2 separate regions of the Homo sapiens genome follow, and region 1 is linked to region 2. Evidence: fine-mapped expression QTL. A gene starts in region 2. The other region holds a variant in brackets. All regions are shown on one strand. Distances are from middle to middle.

What was found. PIP is the estimated chance that this variant, and not a neighbour inherited with it, causes the effect.
Region 1: its variant is fine-mapped to the expression of WNT2B in subcutaneous fat (GTEx, PIP above 0.99).

The regions. Positions count from the first base shown.
Region 1 is chr1:112,446,657-112,458,996 of GRCh38, forward strand. It overlaps CTTNBP2NL (CTTNBP2 N-terminal like), which reads left to right. Exons shown (of 6, transcript NM_018704.3): 4 at 2,286-2,516; 5 at 7,793-7,900; 6 at 9,275-12,340. The coding sequence ends at 10,756. Among named protein-coding and RNA genes, the nearest start is that of MIR4256, 9.0 kb to the right of the region's middle. The variant G/C (reference allele first, on the strand shown) is at 5,274.
Region 2 is chr1:112,504,588-112,512,587 of GRCh38, forward strand. It overlaps WNT2B (Wnt family member 2B), which reads left to right and starts at 4,378. Exons shown (of 5, transcript NM_024494.3): 1 at 4,378-4,857. The coding sequence starts at 4,676. RefSeq lists enhancers at 3,646-4,189, 5,114-5,613 and silencers at 4,167-4,296, 4,307-4,416, 4,477-4,556, 4,617-4,726, 4,720-5,014.

The DNA of each region.
Region 1 (12,340 bases), 56 kb before region 2:
CCTCCTGCTTCAGCCTCCCAAGTAGCTGGGGCTACAGGCACATGCCGTCATGCCCAGCTAATTTTTTGTTTTTTGTAGAGACAAGGTCTCCCTATTTTGCCCAGTTTGGTCTTAAACTCCTGGGCTCAAGTGATTCTCCTGCCTCTGCCTCCCAAAGTGCTGGGATTACAGACATGAGATGCTGCGGCCGGCTATTCACCATGTTTTAAAATAAGAAGAAGAATGGCTGGTTCTGGAGCTGATCTTTTCTTTCTCCATCCTAAATGGACTGGAGGTTATTTTGAAATTTTACTGTGAATTTCCTTTTTAACTTGGAGCTGAAAAAAGTAGGGTTTCAGCCAGGCGCAGTGGCTCACGCCTGTAATCCCAGCACTTTGGGAGGCCAAGGCGGGTGGATCACGAGGTCGGGAGATCGAGACCATCCTGGCTAACATGGTGAAACCCCGTCTCTATTAAAAAATACAAAAATTAGCCGGGCGTGGTGGTGGGCACCTGTAGTCCCAGCTACTTGGGAGGCTGAGGCAGGAGAATGGCGTGAACCCAAGAGGTGGAGCTTGCAGTGAGCCAAGATTGTGCCACTGCTCTCCAGCCTGGGCGACAGAGCGAGACTCCATCTAAAAAAAAAAAAAAAAAAAAAAAAAGTAGAGTTTCATCTTAGACTCTGTGTTTTATACCTCCCCCACTTTTAATTCACACACACACACACAACACACCATAAGGCTAGAAAGATAGTTATTAGTAACTTAAAGAAATGGATTTCTCTCTTCATATTTCCAGTATACAAATAACATCCAAATACTCCAGTAATGTCATAAAGTAAGATGGCTGCAGTCAAGCCAGAAGTAAAACCCAGAATTTCTAACTGCTTTGAACATTTGCCAGCTGATAAGAACGTAAAATTTTACCATAAGGCTAAGTGATTCCTGGGGCCTAAATTGGACAGTCAATGAAGAAGAAGTCTTCAGATTTTCAGCACTGAAATACTTCTGTGTTAAAAAAAAAACCCATGTTTGCTTTATTTTCTTAAAGTTTCCTTTAAATTAAAGCATAGCCAATGAATTGCAAATTTCCCTTTTTTTTAAACAGGCTCCTATTTGTGGATGGCAGTGCTAAGAAAACATGACTACTGATTAGTTTTTTAAAATGGATAAATAATAGTAGTTTTCATAACCAGATTTAATTTGAAAGCTTAAATTATATAGTACTTTGCTGTGACTTTTTAGTTTCTTCAACCCTGTGTTAACACTTCATTTTTCATTGTAAAATATCTCAAGAAACTTTTAAATATCTGTGTAATAAGTAAAAAGTAATGTACATGTAATGTATGATGCTCATGTGGAGTTCTTCAAGCTCTTCCTACAGAGATAAGGAAAGAGGGAAGCCTAGGAATATCTTTCCACCCACTTCCTGATCCTTATACTCCCAACTGGGTACCCAGGGCTAACGTCCTTGACCAGACTCCAGGCACCAGCTTGCATCCCTTTCTTACATGCTCATCCCCAAGGCTCATCAAGCCTTGAAAGAGACAGAAAAGAGAATGGAAAGTAACAACCAGAGACAAGAAGAGGGGGTGGAATTTGGCAGCAGGTGGAAGAGGTTTTGTCTGCATGTCTGGTTATGAGGTGCCTCCATCCTCCTTGACCCATCAACAACTGAGTAATGGTTCATATGTACAGGTCACAAGTAGTCCTAGATTGTAATGTGATCCTGCTTATATTTTGCACACTTTATATATCTGCTGGCATTTTGTTAGGTCTCTAAATATATAAACTCATAAAATTATCATACTTAACATGTTTTAGAAATGCTAGTACCATAACACGGAAAAAAATAAGATGTACCTGCTGGTAATATAAGCATTCATAAGCAGATATAAGCAGAGTCAGTAAGCACAGAGGTTAAGGACACAGACTTCGGGGCCAGGTTGCCTGGGTTTAAATCCCAATTCAGACAGCTTGCTAGATGAGTAACCAGGAATAGTTTTCTCATCAGCAAAATCGAGATGATAGCACTACCTTACAGGGTTGTAAATTTTAAACAAGTTAATCTGACTATAAATATTTAAAACAATGTCTAATACATAGTGCTTTATAAGTATTTGTTCTTGTTAATATACCATGCCACCTTTCTAATGCTGTTTCTTTAGATGGCTCAATCTGACTTGTAATTAGTAGGTTACATTTATACTAATACCACAACCTTTAATGTATAACCACTGGATAGCAAATCCCCCTTCCTCAGTAGTTTTAAAAAGCAAGATGCTTATTTTTTTTCCTCTTTCCCAGGCCCAACACAGAGATACTTTCATTGAAGAACGCTATGGAAAATATAACATCAGTGATCCTTTAATGGCTCTACAGAGAGATTTTGAAACACTGAAGGAGAAAAATGATGGCGAAAAGCAGCCAGTCTGCACAAATCCACTCTCTATTCTTAAGGTTGTGATGAAGCAGTGCAAGAACATGCAGGAGCGCATGCTGTCCCAGCTGGCTGCTGCTGAGAGCAGGCACCGAAAGGTAGGTTCACCTCAGTTGATGTGTAAATCTTTGTGAAGTCTTTATAAATTATGCCTGATACTTTCTTGTCAGCTGCCAGTTTTTCACAGTAATTCAATTGGGACATCTCACGGGTATCAAAAAGCCCCTTAGTTTATGTAAGAGCCAGGAGATAAAAAAGAAAACACAGCTTATTGCAAATGTTAAGTTTAGAGAACGTGCCAGACACGTTATTTAAGACAGCATTTCTTCTTGATATGTCACTCCAAAACACTTTGTATGTTTTTTCAGTTCTTGATCATTCAAACTTTGGGGTTTGGCCAAGCTTGTAGCTGACGGGAGTGTTCTCTATTTGCTTACTTAAGAGATAAATAAAAAGATTAACAGGTATTTGAGGCATGCTATATCCAAGGGAGAGAAAGAATTTACCTGAGGATAAACACAGAAGCCAATAGATTATTTTCATTTATTCCTATTATTCCTAGTTTTGAGTTTCATTGCATTTTGTTGCTCATGAAACCATAAACAGTCCCTTGGTTTATTTACCTTAAAGGTGTTCTACTCTATTAGTGAGGGGTGTGTGTGTGTGTGTGTGTGTGTGTTTTCCATATTTAACAAGCCCTAAAATAGGAAGGCAAACCTTATGGTTATTTACAGTATTTACTTTAAAGCTGTTCTACCCTATTAGTAAAGAGTGTGTGTGTGTGTTTCCATTTCTAACAAGCCCTAAGAAGGCAAACCTGTGCTTTCCTCTGCTTCATCTTACTGGAATTCTAGTGCTTGTGAATTTATTCACCAACTTGTCATCTTGTCATTTACTCCTCAAATTTGGCCTGTAAAAGATGCTTGGCTACAATCTTCATTTTTAAAACACTGTCAGTTTAGATTTATGCCAACAAGGCAGTTATCAGTGCATTTGGTAGGAAACATTTTCATCTGAAAAATAGGGTTAGCAGCTGCAAAATTTGGTGGACCTTACTTTTATGGTTATCAGCATTAGAGCCATCTTCTTAAATTGCATCTGATACATTTTCTAGGCTCTGGATCTTGCCCGTGATCTTTTCTTTCCCTTCACAGAAGCCAAATGAAAGGCCAGAGTGGAACTTCTTAACCATGGATAGGCCTCAGATGTTCCACAGTCCCCCAGAAAATAGACAGAATGTTCAGAGTTTATGCATTTTTGTAGGAAATGTATTTTTTCCATAGCTTTAATCAGATTCTCCAAGTTACCCAAGACCCAAAAATGTTTAACCTCTGGTTAGAATGAAGTAATCTGAAAACATTTACACTCCAATTTAAAAGGTATCAGTGGGTGGGAGTTAGTTGCCTAAATTGGGTGGAGGGGGAGCTTTTACATAATTCTCTAAAAATCTTCACAACATTCTTGTTTAATAGGCAGGCTTTATTTCCACTTCATCCATGAGGTGACTGAGTTGTGTTGAAGCTAGTTGGGCTAGCTTTCATGCCCATGGAAGGTGTACTAGGGACAGTTTGTGTTTCTAGGTGATTGGAGAGAGGAAGAAGTTAAAAATAATTCAAAATTTCTTAATACTATATTGCAGTGCTAAATGTTTTAAGTGAATATTAAATTTTTGAAACAAAGTACCTATCTATTCTTTTTTTTTTTTTTTTTGAGGTGAAGTCTCACTCTGTCACCCAGGCTGGAGTGCAGTGGTACAATCTTGGCTCACTGCAACCACCACCTCCCAGGTTCAAGTTTAAGTGGTTTATCAAAGTAGAAGACTGACTTTGTTAGAAATCAAACAGTACCTAGAGGCTTATAATTAGGGTGCTCATAGTCTCAGCTTATGCCTGTCACCTTGGCTTAGTTATTAACCATATTCCCTTTGACTGTCAGAAATGTTCTGGTTTGAATAATAAATTACATGGTCATTGTGCTTACAATGAAAAACAGTTTTCTATTCCACCTCTTCTCATTCCCCATCCTCCCCAGTATTCACAGGCAACCAGTTTTTTCTTTTAGCCATTCACTTTGGTAGCTAACCTCCATATTTCTAAATACTGCACTGTTCTCTCTTGCTTTATCAATTTTAGACATTTATATTACTTTCTTTTATATAGGTGCAGATTTAGTTATCTTACACCCCGCCTCCCTTTCCTCTCCTTAACCCTTACCCAGAACAAATTTAATCCTCTTTTCCCACCACCATTCTCTGTCACATCTACTATTCCCAAATCCTGAGCCTGTCACACTATTTCTTGAATGTGACAGGCTCAGGATTTGGGAATAGTAGATGTGACAGAGGCCAGATGCTGATGGTCTGTGTGCAGGAATCAGGGTGAAGGGACAAATAATTCTGAAAATACAGGCTTTGAAGGCCAGACACAGTGACTCATGCCTGTAATCCCAGCACTTTGGGAGGCCAAGACAGGCAGATCACTTGAGGTCAGGAGTTCGAGGCCAGGCCAGCCAACATGGTGAAACCCCATCTCTGCTAAAAATACAAAAATTAGCCAGGCATGGTGGCGTTCCTGTAATCCCAGCTACTCGGGAGGCTGAGGCAGAAGAATAGCTTGAGCCCAGGAGGTGGAGGTTGCAGTGAGCTGAGATCACACCACTGTAATCCAGCTTGGGTGACAGAGCAAGACTGTCTCAAAAAAAAAAAAAAAAACACAAAACAAACAAACAAAAAAACAGGCTTTGAGCCAGTTCTCCTGTTTTCTATTCTACATTTCACCTCTCCTCTGCAGTACCTGCCACCTCCAGGTTCCATCTCTTTGGGGCTCTGCAAGGCAAAACAGCTTCCCTCCTTCAAA[G/C]TAAAGTAGTTACCACAACTCCAGCCTCTTTTCTTCTTCAAAATATTATTAAAATTTTTTCTCTGCTAGAGGCTCTCTCCTTTGTGGGGTTTTAGTCTTTTTATTCCATTTCTGTAATTTTTGAGGACTCCCAAAAGGGAGAAGATAAGACTTACCACTTTTGGCCAAAAGCATGTCTTTCTATTAAATTGAAAAATTAGATTAAAAAAAGGAAATGTGCCAAATTTTTTTTCTTTCATTTATTTTGAGAGACAGGGTCTCGCTGTGTTGCCTGGGCGGGAGTACAGTGGCTATTAACAGGTGCGATCATAGCACCCTATAGCCTGGAACTCTTGGGCTCCAGTGATCCACCTCAGCCTCCCTAGTATCTGGGACTACAAGCATACACCACAGCACCAGTCTCTTCTTTTTTTTTTTTTTTTTTTTTTTTTTTAGACAGAGTTTCACTCTTGTTGCTCAGGCTGGAGTGCAATGGCACAATCTTGGCTCACCACAACCTCTGCCTACTGGGTTCAAGCGATTCTCCTGCCTCAGCCTCCCGAGTAGCTGGGATTACAGGCATGTGCCACCATGCCTGGCTAATTTTGTATTTTTAGTAGAGACAGGGTTTCTCCATGTTGGTCAGGCTGGTCTCGAACTCCCAACCTCAGGTGATCCACCTGCTTTGGCCTCCCAAAGTGCTGAGATTACAGGCATGAGCCACCACTCCTGGCCTCTTTTTTTTTTTTTGAGACAAAGTCTCACTCCGTTGCCTGGGCTGGAGTGCAACGGCATAATCATGGCTCACTGCAACCTCGACCTCCCTGGGCTGAGGTGATCCTTCCACCTCAGCCTCCTGAGTAGCTGGGACTACATGCACACCTCACCATGCCTGGCTAATTTTTGTACTTTTTTGTAGAAATGGGGTTTTGGGTTGGGCACAGTGGGTCACACCTGTAATCCCATCACTTTGGGAAGCTGAGGCAGAAGGACCACTTGAGTCCAGGTGTTTGAGACCAGCCTGGGCAACATGGCGACACCCCATTTCTACAAAAAATCAGCAGGCCATAGTGGTGTATGCCTGTAGTCTCAGCTGCTCAGGAGGCTGAGGTGGGAGGATCACTTGAGCCTAGGAGGCAAAGATTGCAGTGAGCCGAGATGATGCCACTGCATTTCAGCTTGGGTGAGAGTAAGACCCTGTCTCCTCAAAAGGAAGGAAGGGGGTGGGGGAGGGAGAGGGAGAGGGAGAAATAAATGGCTGGTCTCAAACTCCTGTGCTCAAGCAATCCTCCTGCCTCTGCCTCCCAAAAGTGCTGGGATTACAGGCATGAGCTCATTTTTATTTTTATAGACAGGTTTCATGTCCCAGAAAATTTACTCTCTTCACTCATAAAAATTTTTAGTGAGAAGACTAAGAAATGGCCTTTGGGACAAGAGTGCTCTACCCTGGAGGTCTGGGCCAAGGCACTTCTGAAGCATGAGCAGAAGCTACTAAGCAATCAGAATATTTGCAGTTGTAGATGGGATTATGTGAAAAATGTCTCTTTAAATTTGTATTCTTGGCCATGTGTGATGGCTCACACCTGTAATCCCAGCATTTTGGGAGGCTGAGGCGGGTGGATCACTTGAGCCCAGGAGTTCCAGACCAGCCTGGGCAAGATGGCAAAACCCCATCTCTACAAAAAATACTAAAATCAGCTGGGCGTGGTGGCGCACACCTGTAGTCCCAGCTACTTGGGAGGCTGAGAGGTGGGAGAATCTCTTGAGCTCGGGAGGCCAAGGCAGCAGTGAGCCATGATTGCACTACTACAGTCCAGCCTGGGTGACAAAGCAAGACCCTGTCTCGAAAAATAAATATATTTGTCTTCTCCTTAAAATTGGGCTTAATCCTTTGGCACCAGGGTAAGTGAAATAGGGGTAGGCAAGTTAAATAAAAGGGCGTATGAAAAATCTCCATTTAAGGTCTCTATATTTGAGCCTTTTTACATGCAGTAGGAAGTCAAGAGAGTCTATCCACCTCTTATCTAACTATATAAAAATGTATATTATTAGTTAAACAAGGCACACTTAGAATGTCACCTATTTGAAATGTTGAATTTCAGGCTCCTTCTTTGGTGCCTCTGGTGATTTGAGAATTGAGAAGAAAATCTCAGCTTTCAGGTTTCTGTGGTCCTGTCTTGCTCCATCACCTACACCTGGCCCCTAGTAACACCAAACTGCCTGCAGTTTCTTGGAATTTCTGTTAATTCTCGACACCTCCTCAACCCCTCTAGCTAATTAGTTGCTCTCTTCTCTCTGTTTGCATATCATTCTCTACATACTTCAAGTAAAGTAAGTATCTTACTGTTTAACACAGAGCTTTCATGTCTTTCACTGTAAGGCAGTGTGCTCCTTGATAGCCCTTGCTGGGTTTCATTTATTCGTTTGTTTGTTTGATCTCTGGAACTATCTAAGGTGCCTGATTTGGCACTTATTATTGGTTGTATTAATAAATGTGACTCCTTGATATTTGAAAATGAAATTTAAAAAATTCTTTAAAGGTGATCCTAGACCTTGAGGAAGAAAGGCAGCGGCATGCACAGGATACGGCTGAAGGAGATGATGTCACCTACATGCTAGAGAAGGAAAGAGAGAGGCTGACTCAACAGGTAATTAAGGTAGAGGGATTCACAGTAGCATTTGCCTGGAACAGCATTTCCCAAAGATTATTCTGCAGGATGCCAACTGGTATTGTTCAGAAAAGGGGCTTTGTGGTCAAATAAGTTTAGGAACTACTGGATTAAGCAAAGTTAAACAGGTTTCTAACTTTGTTAGGATCTTTAGTATGCAGAAGCACATTGTGAGTCTTCAAGAACAAGATAGGGTATTCTGTGTTTAGCAAATCCATGGTTTTATAAAATCTTTTATTGGCATAGATCCCTCACTGTGGGATTATTATTGTTCCGTAGAACACTCTTTGGGGAATGGTAACTTAGCGCTTGTAGCTCTCAAACTTTTGACTTAGAACCCCCAGTAAGAAGTGACATTTTATGTCACAACCCAGTATATGTAGACATACACAGTTACGCCTGAAACAAAAATCTCATGAAATCATATATAACCCCTACTGCTACAGTACACATTGATGTTTTCTGTTTATATATTTTTTTAAAATTCTAGTCGTGGCTCAGTTAGTTTCCCCATCCATTAATGGATCTCAGAGTTTGAAAAACACTGAGTTTCTTCAACCCTTTCCCTCTCACGCAGAGTCTCTGCCTCAAATAGGGTTGGGAAGACAATTAAAACAGGCTATATTTGTGTAAAAAATATGATTCAGGCTGGGCACAGTGGTTCACGCCTGTAATCCCAGCACTTTTGGAGGCCGAGGTGGGTGGATCACCTAAGGTCAGGAGTTTGAGACCAGCCTGACCAACATGGAAAAACCCTGTCTCTACTAAAAATACAAAATTAGGCGGGTGTGGTGGCGCATGACTGATCCCAGCTACCCGGGAGGCTGAGGCAGGAGAATCGCTTGAACCCAGAAGGCGGAGGTTGCAGTGAGCCAATATTGCACCATTGCACTCCAGCCTGGGAGACAAGAGTGAAACTCAGTCTCCAAAAAAAAGTATGATTCAAATGCAACTATTTGTGTGTGTTTGTTTCTGAGACCCAAGAAAATTATTGCTGAAACTTTAAAATGTTTGTTTTCAGCAACATTCATCACAAAATGTGGTTGATACAGCTTTCTGTTATCTTGTTTTGATTGGTTCTGATGCTCTCCACATACGTGAAACACAAAGATACGTCATATTCCCACTAATCACTGCAAGACAGTATGGGAACTAGAAGTGCCTCCCAAATCATCAAAGAAAGATTAAATCATAGTGTGTGCATTTTTTGTGTTAGGTGTTCTAAAATTTCAGAAATACTTGATCTAAGCACTGTGATGTGCATGTTAATCCTGTATACCAGAGAACAGCTAACGAAGACAGTCTACTTGATCACAGTTTGTCAGTATGTCTCTCTTTTCTTTTTTTTTCTAGTTGGAATTTGAAAAATCCCAAGTGAAAAAGTTTGAAAAAGAACAGAAGAAGCTCTCTAGTCAGCTGGAAGAGGAGCGCTCCCGCCACAAGCAGCTCTCATCCATGCTAGTGCTTGAGTGCAAGAAAGCCACCAACAAGGCAGCCGAGGAAGGACAGAAGGCAGGAGAGCTGAGCCTGAAATTGGAGAAGGAGAAGAGCCGGGTGAGTAAACTGGAAGAAGAGTTGGCAGCTGAGAGAAAGAGAGGCTTGCAGACTGAGGCCCAGGTAGAGAAGCAGTTATCAGAGTTTGACATCGAAAGGGAACAACTGAGAGCAAAACTGAACCGAGAAGAGAACCGGACCAAAACCCTGAAAGAAGAAATGGAAAGTTTAAAGAAGATAGTGAAGGACCTAGAGGCTTCCCACCAGCACAGTAGCCCTAATGAGCAATTGAAGAAACCAGTAACCGTGTCCAAAGGCACAGCAACTGAGCCTCTCATGCTAATGTCTGTGTTTTGCCAAACAGAGAGTTTTCCAGCAGAAAGAACCCATGGGAGCAACATAGCCAAGATGACAAACACTGGGCTGCCTGGTCCTGCCACTCCTGCTTACTCATATGCAAAAACCAATGGCCATTGTGACCCAGAGATACAAACTACCAGGGAGCTGACTGCAGGCAACAATGTAGAAAACCAGGTGCCTCCACGGGAAAAATCTGTGGCATTGGCCCAAGAGAAACCAGTGGAGAATGGTGGGTGTCCTGTGGGGATTGAGACTCCAGTCCCAATGCCCAGTCCCCTCTCTTCCAGTGGGAGCTCACTGTCTCCCAGCAGCACTGCCTCCTCCTCTCTAACATCCTCTCCTTGCTCTTCGCCGGTACTCACTAAGCGTTTATTGGGGTCATCAGCTAGCAGCCCTGGCTACCAGTCATCGTACCAAGTAGGGATCAACCAACGGTTCCATGCAGCTCGCCACAAATTTCAGTCCCAAGCAGATCAGGACCAACAAGCCAGTGGCCTACAGAGCCCTCCATCCAGGGATTTATCCCCCACCCTCATAGACAACTCTGCCGCCAAGCAGCTGGCCCGAAACACAGTCACTCAGGTGCTCTCCAGATTCACTAGCCAACAAGGGCCAATCAAGCCAGTCTCTCCCAACAGCTCTCCCTTTGGCACAGACTATCGAAATCTAGCCAACACTGCCAATCCAAGAGGTGACACAAGCCATTCACCTACTCCAGGGAAAGTGTCCAGTCCCCTGAGCCCCCTGTCTCCAGGAATCAAGTCCCCAACCATCCCCAGAGCTGAGAGAGGAAACCCTCCACCCATCCCACCCAAGAAACCTGGCCTCACCCCTTCTCCATCTGCTACCACTCCATTGACCAAAACTCATTCCCAGGCAGCCTCTTTGACCACTGCAGAAGACCTTGCCAGCAGCTGCTCTTCCAATACTGTTGTAGCAAATGGTAAGGATGTTGAGTTACTTTTGCCTACCAGCAGCTAGTCCCTAGGAGGGAGTCTCCACGTTTGACATTCCATCAGATTTCGTCCAAAAGCTCAGTCAGACTTCTGAGTCAGATTATGTTATTTATTTTGATAGTAGCTGAAACCATCTGTATAATACATTTAGTATATTTCACCATTTTGTATTTTTTTAAGTAGAAACTGAGTAGTTTGGATTTTTATGGCTCACATCTTTTTACTGAAGCCAGAAAGGCACCTCAAAGATGTCTCAAGCTCAGCAGTCACCGTCATGTTGTGATGAAGAAAGCGAATCACCAGGTGGTGATTTGCTATCTATTTGAGAACTAGAATCACTCAACACTCATTTTGAATTATGCAGAAGTGGTTCATGCAGATTTTTATTCCAGATGAACATGTTTTAAAAGTGCCTGAAATATGACTGCCATATGAATGTGATTCTGCAGCAAAAAACACAAAATAGATCATTTAATTACAGAAAATGAGATCCTCTGTGAATTCTGAATGTTAAAAACCAACACTGCTTTTAATCCTCTTTTAATGTTTTAATACAAGCTTTGTGTTCTGAAACAAGGCTGCATAAGTAGAATGGGAATCCTTCTAAAGGTGGGTGTGAACTCACCACAAGCTGAGCTTTATAGAGCCCTTGAGAAACCCTCCTGAGCACTAAGCAGTTGGGGTGCTGATTTTCTTGTACTTTTGAAAAATTAAGTCACTCCCAGTTTCCTGCATAAGTTCTTGAACAGAATGAAATCACATCTCCATTCAAAAAATGTCTCAAGCATCTACTGTTGTGTAAGGAACTTCTGATTCTGATTGCTGTTACTTGAATAGGAAATGGTTACTCATTCTGTATAAAAGTTTTGCAAGAGAATGAATTTTTTATTCTGTAATCAAAAAGCAATAACTTGAAATTCACTCTGTAATATTATAGGTCAGTCAGAATTATACAAGTTTTACCAAATTGTTACACTTATTCTCCAAGCTGCCAGAACCTGGTATCTGTATCTGTAAAACCAAATTAACTTTTGCTTAAATGGGAAGTATACATATATCTGTATAGATACATTACCCCTTTACATGTTTAACATACACACACTTAAACACATAAATACTAGTGTGATTATATCTTTGGAGTTTGCAATATAGCATAAAGGACAAGTAGAACTGCACATTAAGATTACCTACCGAAGCAACTAGATGTGGCTGGGACACAATCAAAGGAGGAATTTTGTCCACAGGAAGGTGAGGAAATTCCAAATGAAGCCTAGATCTTCAGTATCATAAAAAGGCAGAGCTGGCCAGGCACAGTGGCTCATGCCTGTAATCTTATCACTTTGGGAGGCTGAGATGGGAGGATCTCTTGAGACCAGGTGTTCAAGACCAGCCTCATCAACATAGTGAGACCCCATCTCTATTAAAAAAATAAATAGGCAGAGCTAAACTAACCCCAGTGTCACAAAACTCAACTGGTCATATAAATGAGTGAAACAGGCCTCTCACACAAGCGATGTAAAACAGCTGGGAGCAGTGGGAGCTGTGGCAAACTAAAGTGCCCAAGCCGCATTTAAAAAGGGCATCTGTTCAGCTCCATCTGCTTGCTGCG
Region 2 (8,000 bases):
GCTTCCTTTACTTCCCCAGACACCTGCATGGGGTGGCAGGGCAAGAGGTGAGGCATTAGTTACCTGTGTGAACCTGGCCCTATTTCAAATAAGACCTGCCTCGGTTTGCAAAGAAATCTCAGGAAAGGCGTCTCAGGGCCCCTTGTGCAAGCAGCAGGCTCAGGAATTCCTTGACTCCCATCCAAACCTCCCCCCAGCCCCTTCTTGGCCTTTCTCTCTGCTCATTACCATCCACACCACCTCCCACCCACCGGGAAAAAGAGAAGGTCATCGCCAAAGGGGCCCAGGGAAGGGGAGCCTTCTGGAGGATAGAGCAGGGTGGGGTAAGAGCTGTTTACCCACACCCCAGCTCCCCTTAGCTCATCTCCCCTCCCATCCAAGGGCCAGCAAAAATTCAAAATCATTCAGCCACGCATAGCTGAGAACAGAGTGAAAAGAAATCTTAACTCTGTCCCACCAGAGAGCAGAGCATAAGGTGACATCAAGGGTGACAGTGGACCCTTCTTCTTTGGGCACCCACTTTTGAGAGGACAGGAGGAGGCTCTAGTGCCACTATGGGGAAGAGGGTGGACCTGACTCTGCTGGCTGGGTGGAAGCTGTCCTGCTGGAGGCCCCAGGTAATCTGGCAGCTTTCAGGGGACCTGGGATTCTTCCTCAGGTCTCTACTGATACTGTTCACTATGTCTGCAGCATGCACCCTTGAACTTCAGCAGAGCCTAGTGTGCCACCCACAGACGGTTTTATTATATTTCCATGAAAATGCCTTGGGAGTAATGCCTTTTGCTCCTTGTTATTTAGGATACCCTGGCCAGTGTTGGGCACACAGCAGGTGCTCAGTAAGTGCTGACTTGACTCCATGCAGGGTTCTACAGACCAGAACTTAACTCTGAGATCAGTGACTCCTCCCTCTGGCTCCCAGAACTGAGAGTGAGAGTGTGGAATAAAATGAAGATGCAGGTCAGGAGCTAGCTTGAGCCTCTGGCCTTGACCCTCTGCCTGGCAGCCCCACAACAAGCCTTTGCGTGAGGAGCTGAGCTCTCCAGTAGTGTCTAGGACCTTGAGACTGGAAGTTTATTTTGAGATTTGAAGCTCCAAAGAGGCAGATCCCAGAAAACCTCTTCTCTGGCTCCATATTTGTTCTCTAGTTAAGTGGTTGAGTGCAGCTCTTGCAGTCAGCTGGCTCCTGCAGCCTGGGATTCCTCCCGGGGAACTGGGGACTCAGAGGAGAGGGGACAAAGAAGCAGAAGGAGCCAAGCCTCATCCTAGGTTGTCCACTCTGGGGGCAGAGGTGACTTGTAAACCTTAGAGAGAAGTCTAGTCCCCTCACCCACTTCCTTCCCTCTCAGAGCTGCTGATGTTTCTGGCTGTACCCCCCTCACCCCTCCCTTCAGCTCAGAAACATGCTTTAAAATTTTTTTTATTTCTATTTATTTATTTTGAGACAGGGTCTCACTCTGTTGCCCAGGCTGGGTGCAGTGGTGCATTCATGCCTCACTGCAGCCTTGACTTCCTGGGCGTAAACAATCCTGTTGCCTCAGCCTCTCAAGTAGCTGGGACCACAGGTGTGCATGACCACACCTGGCTAATTTAAAAAATTTTTTGGGTCTCACCGTATTGACCAGGCTAGTCTCTAACTCCTGTGCTCAAGCCATCCTCCCAACTCGGCCTCCCAATGTGCTGGGATTACAGGCGTAAGCCACCAAGCCTGGGCCTCAAAAACATGCTTTAATACTTGAGCATCTGTGTTGTGCCAAGACACAGTCCCACTTGACTGTAAAGACAGCTCAGGCCAAAGAAGGGGCCTCAGAAGTGATTTGGGGGCCCATGTGGGCGAGTCCACTCTAGGTTAGGGCTGATGTGATCATCTTCAGCCAACTTTCCCCCTCCCTGCGCTTTCCACCAACCCCAGGCCCTGTGTAGAAATAAACACAGGGCCAGAGTCACACCCAGGTCTAAACACACAGGGGAGTCTGGGAGAGGCTGCTGGAGCTCCAAGACTGCCCTGTGTAGGGATGGGGCTGGGTTGGGAGGAGGTAAAAGAGTGGTCCAAGGAAAGAGGCCCAGCCAAGAAGGAGCCTGGGCTCATTCCTCTCCCACCTGCCCCTCTCAGGAAAACTAAGCACAGAGTCTGTGCCTTTCTAAGGAAATAGCCAGGCCAACTGGAGCCCACCCGACAAAAAGAAAGGGAGAGAAGGGGAAGAAAATAAGTTAGCCTGTTGGCCACAAAGGATATGGTCCCAGTTTCTGTGCCAGGAAGTCGGCCCTGAGAAGTGTCTGTATTCAGTCCTCTCCAACTCCCATCCAACTCCAGCCCAGCCCCCACTTTCCACCCAAGTGGGGAGCACTGCCTCCCATTCATGACTTGGAGCACCTCAGGGACTCATCTGAATTCTCTTCCTCCACGCACTCCGCTCCAGCTGGATGGCCTTCTCGATAACCCTCGTACACCAGCCCACTCCTGCCTTTGGGTCCCTGTACGGGCTCTGCCCTCGGCTTAGGATGCTCTTCACCAGGAAGCTGCCTGGCTTGATTCCTTGCCTCCTTCAAATCTCTGCTTGCATGTCACCTTAATGAGGCCTACCCTGATCATCCTAGTTGCAACTGTAACCATCCCCTTGACTGTGCTCTCTTTACCACTGCACTTACTACTTTTTAACATACTCTGTTTTACTTCTGATGTTTATTGTTTATGGTCTATCCTCCTGCAATAGAAGGCAAACTCCATGAGGGCATAGACTGTTCACCAATGGGTCCCTAGTGCCTAGCACAGTCCTGGCATGTGGTAGGAAATAAGTATTTGTTGAATTAATGAATGCACTCATCACCTTACCACAGAAAGTGGGGGTAAAGGAGTGTCACTGTAGGTTGGGGACAGGAGGGAAGTGCTTGCAGCCCCTTCCCACTCTGCCCGCCCACAGAAGTTGGGGCTGCGGAGTGAGGGGCGCTAGGACCCGGAGGCGGTGGGGAGAGAGGTTAAAGGTTCCTCTGAAACCTTCTCCACTATCTCTGTCTCTGAGATGTCTGCAGCCAGCTGCACCCCATCTGCTTACACTCGGGAGGCACCTCTAACGCCACCACCGCCCCCCACCCCCAACCAAAGACTGACAGTGAATTTGGAGTTGGGGGCATCGGCAGTTACTAGTAAGTTGTTTACCCCAGGACTTTAAAATCATATGAGGAGGCAGGAAAGACACCTGCGAGGTGGGAGAAACTGAGGCTGAAGAAGCGACTGGAGCCAGATCCCAGGTGAACTCTGAACTCTCGAAGTTAAGCCCAGGATTTTAAAAAGAATTTTACTTCTGACGGAGGGCCACAGTGCCCGCAGGGCCCGTACCTGCTATCCTGGGAGGTTTGAGGGTTGGGGTGGTGGGGAGAGGAGAGTCTCTTTCGGCAGACTGCACCTCCCCACCCCTTCCCTATTTACCACGCCCCCAGGCGCTGTGCGGGCGGAGGGAGGGTGAAGGAGCAGTGGGGAGGAGGCAGGGCGAGAAGACGAAGGAGGGAAAAAGCTCCAGGGCTTCCACTCTCTCGGCAGGACCCCCACCCTGGCCTCTGGTGCGGGAAAACCTCCCAGCTGTTTCTGATTCTTTCATACTCTCAGCCCCGCCCGAGAGGGTGGAGGACCGAGGCACAGAGGGGGAGCGGGGAGAGACTGAGCTCCGCTGAGCCCAGGAGTAAGGGGCGGGGAGTCCGCAGGTGCCCCCTTAGCGTCGGCAGTCGATTCCCGGTCCGTAAAGAAAAGCACCCGGGCCGGGCAGGCCGGGCAAGCAGGAGCCAGGTCTAAACGTGATGCATTGGGGGTGGGGGGTGCAGTGGCTCAGAAGAAGCAGGGGCGATGAGCTCTAGCTGAAAGCATCCCCTGCTAGAAGCCGACTGCCCACGGCGCTCCTGTAGGCAGTGTTGAAAAGGTAGTTAAGACCTCCAACTCCCGGTGGCAGGGACTCTACCCATTTCACAGAAGCGCAAGGATGGAGGAAATGAGTGCATCCTCCGTGCTCAGCGCCGGTGTCACTGTAGGTTGGGGACAGGAGGGAAGTGCCCGCATCCCCTTCCCGCTCCGCCAGCCTGGCCGTCACCCATAGAAGTGGGGCTGCTGAGTGAAGGGCGCTAGGACCCGGTGGCGCGGTGTCGGCAGGGACTGGGCGCTTGGGGCGCAGGAGGGAGCCGCGGCGTCCCGTCGCAGCGTGCGGGAGCAGGTGGGGGTGCAGCGCGGTGGCGCGCGGGAGCCCCGAGGGGCGGAGGCGGCTGCTACACCTAGGGCGTCGCGGAGCGCCCCGGGCTTGGCGCGGGCGGAGCCGCCCTAAGGGCCGCGCGTGTCCCCGGCCTCGGCCCCGCCCCGTCCCGTCCAATGAGAGCCCGCGGCCGAAGGGGCTGTCCGCACACTAGGCCCGCAGCTCCCTTCAGCGCCGCAGACCCCCTGACACCGCACCCGGTCCTCAGGCAGCGCGCCCCAGACCCCGGGTTCGGCACGCCGTCGTCGGCTTCCGGACATCGCAACTTGCGCCCCTCTCGGGGATCCTCCTCCCGGGCTCTGGACCCCAGGTGATCCTAGGTCCCCAGCCGCCGGCGAACACCATGGCCCCCCAGGGGGGTGAGGTAGGAGCAGCCTGAGTACCCCCAGAAGGTGCCCCGTCCACGCCCCTCCGGGCTGCGCGGCGGGAGTCTTCGGGGAGCTATGCTGAGACCGGGTGGTGCGGAGGAAGCTGCGCAGCTCCCGCTTCGGCGCGCCAGCGCCCCGGTCCCTGTGCCGTCGCCCGCGGCCCCCGACGGCTCCCGGGCTTCGGCCCGCCTAGGTCTTGCCTGCCTTCTGCTCCTGCTGCTGCTGACGCTGCCGGCCCGCGTAGACACGTCCTGGTGGTAAGTGTGGCTCTCAGGCTGGGCGGGTGAGGCGCTTGGTAGGAGAGGCCGGAGGCGCCTGGAGGGACTGGCTGCTCACGGGACCAGGCTGTTGCTTCGACGGGTTGGAGACGATTCGGGCAGGACTGTCACTGAAATCTGAAGTCGCGGGGTGGCGGGAGGGTGAGGCGCCGCGTCTTACACGACTGGTGAGAAAGGCGCTGGGCATTCGGAGCAAGGATGCCCGGTGGTCGCGGCTCCTTAGGCCTCCACGTGCTGTACCCCCTCTATTTCAGCTCAAGCCCCTTAGGGCAGAAGCTACCTTCCGAGTTTCCCTCAGGGTGAGTTCAAGGAACGAATAACCTTCCAGGGCCCGCAATAGCTTCGCCAGGGCCCCAATCGCCTAAGGTCGCCCTCTGAGAGGTGGAGAAAGGGGCAGCTCGCTAGTCTAGCCCACCCATACCACAGGAAGGCTTTGGTGAGGCAGCAGCACCCAGCCGAGGCTTAGAAATGGAATCGAGGCAAAATTTACCCCATTAACTCCCACAATTAAAACAAACAAAACGCATGGGTTTGCATTATCTAGGCATTTGTCTTCAGCCACCGTTTTGAGGATGTCACTTAGGAAACTTTGCCTCCCTCCCTTCTTCCTATTCTTTCCCATCTCCCATTTCTCCCCTCCAAGAGCCAGAGGGCTGCGGAGTCCCAAGATACTAAGAGACCCCCTCCCCAGATTTCTTGCAGGCCCTAGACTCCAGACACTTCACAAGAGGGCAGATGAGGCAAAAAGGCATTACAGATCCACTGGATGTCTCGTGTCTGTTCTTTTTAGAATCCTCCCTGCCCCCTACTCCTTGGATGGCACTCATCACCTTCCCGTAGGAGAAGGAGCTGCTTTCCCTTCTTCCCCACCATGGGGAGAGGGCAAAGCAGGGAGAGTTGAACCTAGAAAAGACTCAGTCTTTCCTCTTCACCCCACAATCAAACTGGCCTCTTGGACTAGGCTATTGCCCCTCTCCACCAGGCAGTGCCTCCCGTCCTTTCCTTACTCCGTTCTTCTTCCCGTGCAAGCCCCCCTCCCCGAAATGTGGTCTCTTCTCTCCTTGCACCCTGTGGCTTTTCTCCTCTTGACTTGGAATCTTGGCTGAAGGGTGAGGGGTAGCTGGCCGAGGGGCCCGCCAGCTTGGGCTGCAGATTCCTATCATTTCAAGATGCCGTCTCTCCTTATCCCAACCCCCACCCCCTGTTTTCCTGTTTCAGAAAAATCTCTTTTGAATTTTTTTTTTTTAAATCTCTGCAGTGTTGGGGAAGGCAAGGAGGGGGGGTTCTGGTTGGGGGAACAGAGAGGCCTATATCTTACATCTGGCTTGAAACATTCTTTTAGAAAGGGAAAGGGGAGAAGGGGGATGAGGAGAAAAACCTTTCAAAGTTCTGAGTGAGATCAAAGCTACCTTTTGCCTTCATGAGCTTGGTCTGGCTGGGGACTTGGCATCTTCAGGGTCTTTGTTGAGACAACATGAAGTAACCGCTGCCCATCTTTATCTGGCTCAGACAGCAGTTTGCTTTTTGGGACTCTTGATTGCTTCTTACCAGTTTGGGATATAGTCTTGGGGACCAATTGGTGTTTGGGTGAGGAAGTGTCACTCTGGTAATTTCAGCATCCTGGCAGTGGTTCCTAAAGACCCAAATGGGGGTCTTCCTAGTTCCCATTTTGTACTCTTGACTACTCCCTCTCCCTTTTCCTTTCTCCCTCTACTACCCTCCCCTGATGTGGTTCATATTAAAGATTCTGGAAAAATTCCTGGGTGAAAGAGCTAGGGAGGGAGGGAGGGAGGGAGGTGACACAGAGTGACTTAGCAGCCCCTGTGAAAAGGAGGAAGGCTGCAACAGGGCCAGGTTGGGAAGTGGGTACAGAGGTTGTTTCAGCCTCCTTGCTCCACACCTGTCATAGCTACAGGCCCAGATGCCTGCCTCAGTGATCACCACTTGTGGGATAAGGTGAAAAGCTACCTTCTAAGGGCAGGCTAAGCCCCCAAGCCTTTCTCTTAGGAAAAAACCAGCAAGATTGATGTTCTGTACAACCCGTGGAAGAGAAATGCCTGTTGACTCTGGTGTGTCCATGTTCCACTCTGGAGCAGAAGGCCATCATTTTCACCAGTTAATATTTGGATTTTTCTCATAGCTTGAGATTCTTCCCCTTACTCTCTAACCACTGCCCTCCCTCTATCTATCCTAAACAGACCAAGAAATAGGGAGCTTCCGGCATGTGCTTTCCTGTTTCATTTTGCATTCTGTAGGGGGTTGGATGTAGGGAATCACAAGAACAGGATTGTATTCATAGGCTCACAAAGGGAGAGAAACACAAAGTGGTATCATATTGTTAGCACTACTTTTACCAACAGCAGTTGCTTTTAATAAGCCCTTACTGAGCTTCAGGCACTATGGCCAAACACCTTATGAGCATGATCTTTGTCAATCTGAAATAATCCAGTGAGATGGGTTCTATTATCATCCTTATTTCACAAATGAAAGTGAGGGATGCTGTGGCATTAAGAGCAGATTCATGGAGGCTAATAGTGTTATCTCTGTGTTCAAAGTTCTATATGTGCTGGGCTGAATCATGTACACTAGGGGCTGTACACGAAAGGAGGAAAGAAAAAAAAAAAGCAGATCCCTGGCCCGTTTGTGTCTTTAACATACAAACATAAAACATCTGCAGATAGGCTGGCAACTGTTGACAAGTAAAGCTGTAATGGAAATGGGAGTTAATGGCTGGCTAGAGGGAGAAGGGAGTTGGGGATAAATCAGAACAGTTAGGTGTTTATTCAACAAATAGTGATTGCATACCTACTATGTGCCAGGCACTGTTCTCAGTACTGGGGATATTGAATTGAACAAAACCGACAAAAATCCCTGCCTTTGTGGAGTGGTGCATCCAAACCATGTGAGGATCATGGTGAAATGCAGATTCTGTTACGGTAGGCCTTGGGTGGGGCCTGAATGTCTGCATTTCTAACGAATCCCCACATGATACAGATACTGCTGTTCTGGGGACCACACTTTGAGTAGCAAGGGGCTAGAGTAGTGTATGCCTCACTTTGTCAAATGAAGGGATGTGAATTGGCCAAAAGCAGGTGAAGAGAAGCATTCTGGGGCAGGAAGCT